Regions from separate parts of the Homo sapiens genome. Here region 2 is linked to region 1. A link means that fine-mapping ties the variant in region 1 to the expression of a gene that starts in the linked region. Tissue or cell type: cerebellar hemisphere. Region 1 holds a variant in brackets; the other region holds the start of a gene. All regions are shown on one strand. Distances are between the middles of the regions.

The links. PIP is the estimated chance that this variant, and not a neighbour inherited with it, causes the effect.
Region 2: CLCA4-AS1 starts here. The variant in region 1 is fine-mapped to the expression of CLCA4-AS1 in cerebellar hemisphere (GTEx, PIP above 0.99). The same link has a PIP of 0.9 or more in hippocampus.

What each region holds. Positions count from the first base shown.
Region 1 is chr1:86,539,692-86,544,840 of GRCh38, forward strand. No RefSeq gene overlaps it. Among named protein-coding and RNA genes, the nearest start is that of CLCA4, 4.8 kb to the right of the region's middle. The variant C/T (reference allele first, on the strand shown) is at 2,727.
Region 2 is chr1:86,701,646-86,706,794 of GRCh38, forward strand. CLCA4-AS1 (CLCA4 antisense RNA 1) reads right to left here and starts at 2,848. Exons shown (of 5, transcript NR_135837.1): 1 at 1,962-2,848. It overlaps SH3GLB1 (SH3 domain containing GRB2 like, endophilin B1), which reads left to right and starts at 2,931. Exons shown (of 9, transcript NM_016009.5): 1 at 2,931-3,326. The coding sequence starts at 3,255. RefSeq lists enhancers at 2,135-2,204, 2,769-3,270 and a silencer at 3,095-3,584.

The DNA of each region.
Region 1 (5,149 bases):
TTTTTCAATTCTTCTGATTATACAAAGAGAAATATTTAAATGTAAGAGCCATATGTTAGAATATTTCTGTAGCATCCGCTAAGCTTACAGCTTCTAAGAAGAAAGGGATGCCTTAAGCTCAGGGCACAGCTGATGTACAAATAGCAGCAGCAGAAGCAGCAGCTAGAGAGAGTAAGGAGAGGTTGGTGCAGCGCTGGTGAGCAGGAAGCCATGAGAAGAGATCACATGGGGCTAAAAGTCAAATGTCTCCAGTTTAAGTTTTGCCATTAAGTCAGTTACCTTCCTTGGACATCAGTGTTCTCATCTGTAACATCAGTGGTTGAATTAGATGGTCTCTAAGGTATTTTCCAGCAAGAAAATTCTCTCATATGGATATTCAAAATCTCAACTCCTAAATCCTGGATCTAGAAGATTTCCTGTTATGGTAAAAAGGGTACAAAAGTTCAGAGAAGTGAAATGACTGGCTGAATTGCTCAGGGGAGTCTTCATAAAGAAGTAGAAGTTAAGCTGGATAGAATTAGAAAAATGAGTATGGTCAAGGGGATAATAGTGGAAAGTAAAAATAATTTTCCACAAATTTTGACTAGAGAAAAAGATTTATCATAGATAATATTGGGAGATAAAACTAGAAATTATAATCTGGAACTACATTATGATGAATTCTGAATAGCAAGTAAAGGATTGTGCCAACCTGAAGGTAATGATGAACTCCTGAAGAACTTGAGAAAGAAAAGTTAGTATTATACATTAGATAATTTGATGTTGTGCAAGATTGGACTGGAAGATATTGCTAAGAAATCTTTAAGAAGACTGCCAGATTGTCCAGTTATGAGATGAAATGAGGGTTTTATACCATTTTGTTAATCTGCAGAGAGGTTAAACAGAGCACAGTTCTCTAACTGTGGAATGGAATAATCTCCAACAGTTTATCTATACATAAAGAACCTGTAAATTTCCCTTTGTTCATGTAAGACTATATTGCTCTTTATACATATTATCACCTCCCCTTGATGGGTTTGAATGTGCAAGTTTGGGAGTAGGAGCAGGAAAGAGCTGAAGCACTACTTTGTAGAACAGAGAGAAAGTATTTGGATTTCCAGAAATTTAACAATCCTAGAAGGAAGGGGTAAAAATCAGAGAATGAGGGAAGGCGAGGGGAAAACTGGACACTAAGTAGGAAGAAAGGCAGGCCAATGAGAAATCCTTAATGGTGGGATTCCCAAGAATGTACAAAGATAGGTGACTTCACATTGTTTCCTGTTTAGTGTATTTAGTATATTGAAATGGTAAAAACAGGGCCAGGCATGGTGGCTCATCCCTGTAATCCCAGCACTTTGGAAGGCCGAGGCAGGCGGATCACTTGAGGTCAGGAGTTCGAGACCAGCCTGGCCAACATGGTGAAACCATATCTCTAGTAAAAATACAAAAATTAGCCAGGTGTGGTGGCAGATGCTTGTAATCCCAGCTACTTGGGAGACTGAGGTAGGAGGATCGCTTGAACCCAGGAGGCAGAGGTTGCTGTGAGCCGAGATCGTGCCACTGTACTCCAGCCTGGGCAACAGAGCAAGACTCTGTCTCAAAATAAATAAATAAATAAATGAATAAATAAAATGGCAAAAACAAAAATGAAACACAGCAAACCCTGCCATTTTCCTTTTCAGAGTTTGGAACTGATTTGGAAATTGACATAGGAGTCAGACAGATTATAAAAATATTAGCTCCATATATGCTGAAGCTAAATTAATAAGTATGGCTTGACCTCAAGTCACAATTGGGATTTCTAATGCTTCTCTCCAAGCGTAGAGCTCATAGAGACACTCCCTCTTTCAAAGATACCTGCATCTGACTAGGTGCAAAGGGAATCCCAACCTCACGTAAGTTGGCACTGGGAATAGGAAAGAGAGACTGGTTTCTGGATCTGCCTCTAGAAGGCAAGACATGACCCTGAACCACATGTGCTTAGCACAAGGAATCCAGAGCACAAGGAATACACACACTACAGATAGAGAGATCCAAAAGGAAAGAGGAAGAAACTAAGCCTCACATAATAAATTCCAACTTATTTATATCTCAGGTTCTGTGTTGATAGTGTATAGCTTATAATAATTAAAATCCAATGTTGCCTTCAGAAAATTGTATAAGGATAAGTAACTCAGTTTTTCAGTTCAAAAAGAGGCTCTTTTCATTTTTTTAAATAAAAAGTTTACACATATTATTTCTTCCAGAAATAAAAAATGAAATCATCGACCACACATCTACCTCAGTAAGAATCCAAATTTTCTCATAAAGAAAATGACTATTACTCTCTTAGCATGTAATTGACTCATGATTTAAAAGTCCAGTGACAGGAGACCTCTCTGTTGCCATGGAAATCAGAAGTCCTGACTCTCTCTGGAGAATTCATTGTTAATGGAGCTAGACAGTAGAATGATGATTACCAGAGGGTGGGAACATGGGAGGATGAAGAGAGGTTGGTTAATGGGTACAAACATACAGTTAGGTAGAAGGAATAAGTTCTAATGTTCAATAGCAGCATAGTAGGGTTACTACAGTTAACGATAATTTATTGTATATTTCAAAAGAGCTAGAGGCCTGGTGCAGTGGCTCACACTTGTAATCCCAGCACTTTGGGAGGCCAAGGCAGATGGATCACCTGAGGTCAGGAGTTTGAGACCAGTATAGCCAACATGGTGAAACCTTGTCTTTACTAAATATACAAAATTAGC[C/T]GGCATGGTGCACAGCTATAATCCCAGCTATTTGGGAGGCTGAGGCTAGGAAAAAAAAAGCTTTAAAATGTTTCCAACACACACAAAAAAAGATAAATATTTGAGGTGATGGATATTCTAATTACCCTGATTTGATCATCGTTATGCATGTACCAGAATATCACATGAAGCTCATAAATATGTACAATTACTATTTCTCAATAAAAAAGAGAGAAAAACAAATATGGTGTTATTCTGATAGTAGTATCTGTGAAAACACAAGCTTGTTATGTTGGATACATTTTTCTATTACACACTAAACAAATACATAACAACTGATTTTTTTGTAACTCTTTTTTGACCCAGTGACAGACAAGGAAACTCATACTTTTTGAGTGACTCAAGTGAGCCTGTTTGCCTGAGTTGAATTGAATCTAGGTTTGACTCACTTAGCACAGTCTTTTCTGATTTATGACAAGCCAGCTTCTGCTGGAATGTCTACCTGAGGTTGGGTTGATGGAGGCAGTGGCCCTTATAGCTGGACCAGCTGACCTGGAAACTGTATTATGTAGACTAGTAATGGAAGGGGGTGTCTCTGAGGCCACCAGAGCAGCTTCCCACTTTCCTCTTTTAGAAGAGTATTAGAAACTCAACCAGGGGGATAGATGGAAAACAAGACAAGGATATACATTTGTCTCCAATGTCGAGGTTCCTGTGACACCAGGAAAAAGTAGGGAGAGACTGTTATAAATAGGCACCTTTTTTCACCAGGCTGCATGTGCTCATTGCCTGAGGGGAGCTTCTTCTAACTGCTTTGGCAAAGAGGAATTCTCTCCCAAATGTATAACTCAGAGTTTCCTGAGTTTTTTAAGGTTATAATAGCACCTCCTCAAAATAAATACTCCCGCAAACAATAGAGGGGATCTAAGTCCATCAGGCTTCTTCAACATTTCAAAGGCCTTGGACAAGCTTCTGTTTAGGCATTGTGATAAGCTGTTATTTTGGTTAAAATGATAATCATTCATTTATTCATTTAGTCAACGAGTCAGAAGGGATTTCCTGAACACAAGTTCTATGGGATGGGATCATGCTTGGTTTTCTTGGAGCCACCAAAGCTGGAGTTCAGGGAGAAGCAGGGAGCAGGAGGAAGGGAGGGTCAGTGAGGGCAAGACTGCATAGGATGTATTTGTTAATACCCAGTCTATTCACTCCAGATAATCACAGTTTCCCAGAGCTGCTCCTTTTTATAAAAACTTACTACATTACTTGCCTAGCAAAACAGCATTGCCTTGTGATGGAGAGATTAAATCCATGGGCTCTGGGATAAGAATGCTGGGTTCAGATCCTGACTTTACCAGTTACTAGCCATGTGATATTGGCAAGTTACTTAAATCTGTGTGCCTCAGTTCCTCCATACATAAAATGAAGGTAATATGCATACTTGCCTTACAGAGTTGCAGTGAGGGTTAAGTGAGACAATCTGTGCTCTGGTAAGAACTGAATAAATGTAAACTATTAATGTGATTCACTCTGCCTCAATAGTAACCAGCAAACTACCAGATAAAGTTTTTGATGTGCTTGTATGGAAATAAATTTTATTATTTCTTTACTGGACAGTATTTTTTAGGTAAATAATTTGATTGCTAAATTTATCAAAGTCTTTAAAATCTTTAATTTGGACCTCAAACCCATCTTAACTAATTTGCTGTTATTTACATTTAACTATCTTATCTCTTCCATTATTTATACCATTGTAATGCTGATAAATTGCTTTGTAAAAATAGAAGACATTAGTATTACTGTATCTGTTCATTTTATTATGGATTTTTATTAATTTTCACATTCTACTCTACAGAAAATATAAAGTATATGTCTATGTTTAGGAAATTCATCAAAATTAGAAAGTATAGAAAATGTGTCCCCAACATACTTAAGGTAATAAAAGCCATCTATGACAAACCCACAGCCAACATTATACTGAACAGGGAAAAGTTGAAAACATTCCCCTTGAGAACTAGAACAAGACAAGGATGCCCACTTTCACCACTTCTATTCAACATAATACTGGAAGTCTTAGCCAGAGCAACAAGACAAGAAAAATAAAGGGCATCCAGATTGGTAAAGAGGAAGTCAAACTGTCACTGTTTGCTGATGACATGATCATATATCTAGAAAACCCTAAAGACTCATCTAAAAAGCTCCTAGAACTGGTCAATGAATTCATCAGAGTTTTGGGATACGAAATTAACGTACACAAATCAGTAGCTCTCCTATATACCAACAGTGACCAAGCTGAGAATCAAATCAAGAAGTCAACCCATTTTACAATAGTGCAAAAAAATTAAAATACTTAGGAATATACTTAACCCAGGAGGTGACAGACTTCTGCAAGGAAAACTACAAAACACTGCTGAATAAATCATACATGACACAAACAAATGAAA
Region 2 (5,149 bases), 160 kb after region 1:
AAAGGTCATCAAATACACAAATAGAAGTATTAGACCCCTAAATGCAAAAGGATTTATCTATATGATATCATTTATGCAGTTTAAAAATATAACATAGTAGTACCATTCATAGATACATATAAATTCAGTGAAAGTACAAAAACATAACAGATATTAATCATACCAATTTAAAAATAGTGGCTAACTCTGGGGAAGGAATAGTGTCAAGAAAAGCCTGAATAATTGATCCAGACTGAAGGAGAATTGAGCAACAAGCTAACTGGATGCAGCACATGATCTTTCTTGGCTGGGACGTTTTTGCTGTAAAGACATTGGAATAATTGGCAAAGTTTGAGTGGGGTTTCTAGGCAAAGGGTACACAGAAGTTTTTGTACTATTCTTGCAACAGTTTTCTTAGTTTGTAAATTGTTTCAAGTTAAAAAATTTGTTTTTAAAAAGAGGATGAAAATGAAAAATAGGAAACAGTTTCAGAGAAGAAATTGCCAGGATAGACCAATTGGTGGTGGGAAATAAGAGGAAATAATCAAAGGGGACTCAGATTTCTGGCTTAGGTGATTTGGTGTGTATGATTCAATTTATCAATGTAGGAAACCCAAGAAAAGAAGAATTTTCAGGAAAAGCAAACTATAACAGACTTGCCACTGGAAATATTGAATCTATGGATAAATAGTTGGAAATTTAGGCTGGGGGTGATGGTGTCACAAAAGAGCTTAGCACTGTAAACATCTTGATTTGATTACTTTTTTCACTTACTAAATCATTTGGGAATTCACTATGTTGCCTGTGTAAACCATAAAATATATAAAAATAAATAGGAAACGGACACTGCCCTTAAGGGACTGATATCTGGTAAGAGAAGTAGAATCAGTCTGTAGGCAAAGGGTAGAGACTGATGGAGCAAGTTCTAGAGGGTGACAAATTAGTTCTCAACCTTGGTCACACATTAAGAACACCTAGAGGAACTCCTAAAACATCCCAATGCCCAGTCCACACTCTGGGACTGGATCCAGGCATCAGTGGTTGCTTAAACTCTCCAGGTGATGCTGATGTGCAGCCAAGATTAAGGGAGCAGTGGCTCTACTCAGAACACCTGAGACACCTATTCCTTTGAAACATTTGGCAATGATGCAGGAAAGAGTGTGGAGAGAACAGGAGGTGGAAATAAGGAAATTTGGTTGAAGAGGCTTCTGCCAAACAGAGTGATGATTTATATTTTCTCTGTAAAGAAAGCGAATCAGCTGGGTGCGGTGGCTCACACCTGTCATCCCAGCACTTTGGGAGGCTGTGGCAGGCGGATCACTTGAGGCCAGGAGTTCGAGACCAGCCTGGCCCACATGGTGAAACTCTGTCTCTACTAAAGATATAAAAAATTAGCCGGGCGTGGTGATGCATGCTTGTAATCCCAGCTACTTGGAAGGCTGAGGCAGGAGAATCCTTGAACCCAGGAGGCAGAGGTTGCAGTGAGCTGAGATCACACCATTGCACTCCAGCCTGGGTGACACAGCAAAACTCTGTCTCAAAAAAAAAAGTGTCAAAGGCTAAGAATAAGGATATATGAAAATAAGGTAAGTCTTTTATGGAGAATGGGGAAACAGGATTACAGCTACAGAGGGTGCAAAAGAAAGAAGTAACATTGTTGTTTTCCCAAGACTGGGAAGATTGAAACACTTGAGGATGAGGATTCAGGGACACCACTGTGTCCACCATTAAAGAATTTCCCCTTTAATGGTGGACACGGTGGTGTGATCCTTTTGTAGAGACGAGCATAGGTTATGGCAAATATACCTACTTTAAAAACAGTGCTCTGGGAAGAGAGTAAGTGCTTTTCCACATAAAGATCTAAAATAGACAATAAATGAGAAATAGGGTTTTTTATTATATATTCATTTTTCCATATTTCTGGAAAATGAAACAGACATGGAGTATTTCAAAGCTGGGAGAGATCATTATATTGGAGTTACCTTAGAAAGAGGGGGCTGTTTCTGCCACCACAACAAAGAATGAAACAACACAAATATTTACGTTTTCTTCTTGTCCTCATAATGCTTTTACTGCACTCGTCTTTCAACCTTTAACATCTACTGCATCTGTGACTGTTGTTTCAGTAAAACACGGAAGCTTGAATGTAAGCTCATTTCATTGCCTGCTGCACAACCACACAAAACAGCATTTTCTTATTCTTGAAATATGATAGCAACGTCTCCTTCCATGCTTGTACCTGTTTTAATTCCTTTCAAGCAGAGGCTGTATCGTGAAAGATGCTTAAGAAGTTACTTGGAACGACAGGATTTGGAACGGATGTCACATCATATTCTCATTTGTTATTAAAATTAGTCACGCTTAATTGTTAAGGACTATCCTGTGTCGCTCGCCATCTTTGTGTCCTCCACCTGGCACTTTGCTTTCACACAGTAGGCACATAGCGTTGAGGTCCCGGAAGGTTGTCAAGTAACCGGCCAGGAGCTTGAGGGCAGGACATTGTCTCCGACACTTGATTCAGTGCCTGGCACACAGGAGGTATTCAATTATGCTGAATGAATGAGCAACCGGCTCGGTGGGGGACAGTAAACCCAACCCTATTCCGCGAACGTTTGCTGAGCGGCATCCAGGCCTCAGGGACCAAGTGTGTCGCGCGGTGCCATACCGTGACCGGGACCTGTTATTTCTAATGTCCAGATATTGTAATTCTATGCTGTAACTCCTATATTTCCTCTTAAAACAAAAAGAGAAATGTGGGTCGTGTTCGCTCTGGGTTCTCGTTAAGTGCAAGCATACAGAGGCGCCGAGACCCCGCGGCTCGCCCTCGCCGCTTCCTCCACAGGAGCCGGGCGGAGCTCCCGGCGCGCCCCGGGGCTGCGCCGCCGCAATCCTCAAGGGGTCGCTGTTCCCGCGATAACCTCGAGAAAGGCTCCGCCCCGCGGCCCGCGCTTGTTTTTCCCTTGGGACCCGGGTCCACACGGCGGGGTCGCCCGTCCATCTCCGGCTCGCCCGCGGGGCCCATCGTCGACGTTAGCGGCCGTTCTCCGAGCCGACTGACCCATCCTTGGCGCTGCCGCCGCGCGCTTGTTCTCCTCCCTCGCCCCGCCTTCATCCTCCCCGTTCACGGAAACGACAGCTGCGGCTGCGGGGCTGGCGCCGCCTCCCTCCACCTACCACGTCTGCCCTCGCCGCTCTAGCCCTGCGCCCCAGCCCGGCCGCGGCACCTCCGCCTCGCCGCCGCTAGGTCGGCCGGCTCCGCCCGGCTGCCGCCTAGGATGAATATCATGGACTTCAACGTGAAGAAGCTGGCGGCCGACGCAGGCACCTTCCTCAGTCGCGCCGTGCAGGTACCCTGGTGCTGGGGGGAAAAGGGGTGGCGGCGCCCGGGAAGGTTGAGGGAGGGGACCGCAGCTCGACGCGGCGCCCCCGGGCCTCGCCGACCACCCAGCGGGCCTGCTGCAGCCAGAGGCCTGGGAGATGGGCGCGGCCTGGTCCCCTCCCCGGGCCCGGCGGCGGATTTCTGCCCCGCTCCTGCCCAACCGCCGCTCCCTGGGAAGCGAGGCGGGGTGGGGACGGGGCCGGGAGCTTCCTCCCACCCCTGGGGAACACTAAGGCTGCACTGTCCGCCTTTCTGATACCACGACGTCAGTGCTCCTGTGGCCTCCACCCCGGGGCTGGCGGAGGCTTGCGAGTCCTTTGCGGTAACCGAGACACAGGCCATTCTTGCACTACCCCCCACCCTTTCCTTTCGTCTCTCACCCTCCCCTCGGAGTCCAAGAAGGGAGTTTCCTTTTCCTGTCCTTCAACCCAGAGAGCTGCCAACACAGTTCCCTCCGGCCCTCTTTCTCCCTGAAAGGACTGTCCTGGGCTTGGCAGCCCGCGGGGGAAATGGAGATCGCCAGTTGGCGTTGAGACTTTGCCAAGACCACAAGAAACCTAGGGTTGGGGGGTTTTCACTCTTTTTCAAAATGGGAAGCACCAGCTGTAGATCAAGGAGAGATGCGGGGATATTGTTATGGCTGTAGTCACAGTAGTATGTTTTAAATATACTTTAAGGGGAAAAGTTGACTACCTCTCGATATTCTACAATCAAGGAAGTGTCAGTACTAAGGAACTTGGGCCGTTTCCCACAGTCATCACCCATGTTATGCCAACTCAGTAAATCTGTGAACAGATGTAAATTTCACAACATGAATTATAAACAATCTGGTGTTTACGGTCACGGTAGCAACAACATTCTCTTTTGTAAAAAGAAAACAAAAATAATTTTCTAATATGCATACCAAATTGGTGCTGAAATGTAAATCTGTTCTGTGGCTTTACTACTTTCCTTGCCTTTGCCCCAATTTTGTTGGCACAGTTGATCCTACATTGCACTATCCCTGGCAAAAGAGTAGTAGAGCTAGAGCAAGGTAATAGCTGCCTATATTATGAAAAACCTGTCAAGCACTTTGTAATGCATTTGACATATTATCTCCAGTCTTTTCCATAACTTTGCCAGATAGATGTTATTAACCCCTTTTATATATGTGAGGAAGCAGCCTTACTGAGGTTAAGAAACTTGCACAACTAGTAAATAACCAGGTGCTGTCTGACCTAGTACTCCCAGCTGCTTTTTCTTCCGGGATAAGCATTCCAGATTTAAGATAGCTAGAATAATAGAATGCTGTGGCCTAGAGAGACCTTAAAAATCATCTGGTTCAATCTGAGCATTTCCATATCAACAAGCAAGTAACACTTTAGAGATGGTAAATTCCTTCTAGCTTTTGATTTCTAAGTTCTAAAATCTGCATGGTGAGTAATAAGCTAGCTGCCTTAACCCTTTTCTTCCCTTCCTTCCCTAAAATATGATATATTGTAGACGTTGAGCCTTTATAGTTAAAATAATGTTTTGATTTAAATTCACTAGCTTCTAATAGTTCAAAGACAAGGTGCAAGAAGAATGAGTGATTGAGGGTGTGAAATGAATTTTGATGTGTGAGACACTTGTACACTTTTAACATTGACTGCAATAGAGGACTAGAGCCCTTGGTATTTTTGTTTGTCCTAGTGCTCATTACCTATAATTCTAGATGCTTATGAGGATTTGACACTGTATAATGCTACTCTTTTAAATACAGTTAAATATGTTTCAGACGTATAACTCACACCCCTTAAAGAGGACACATTT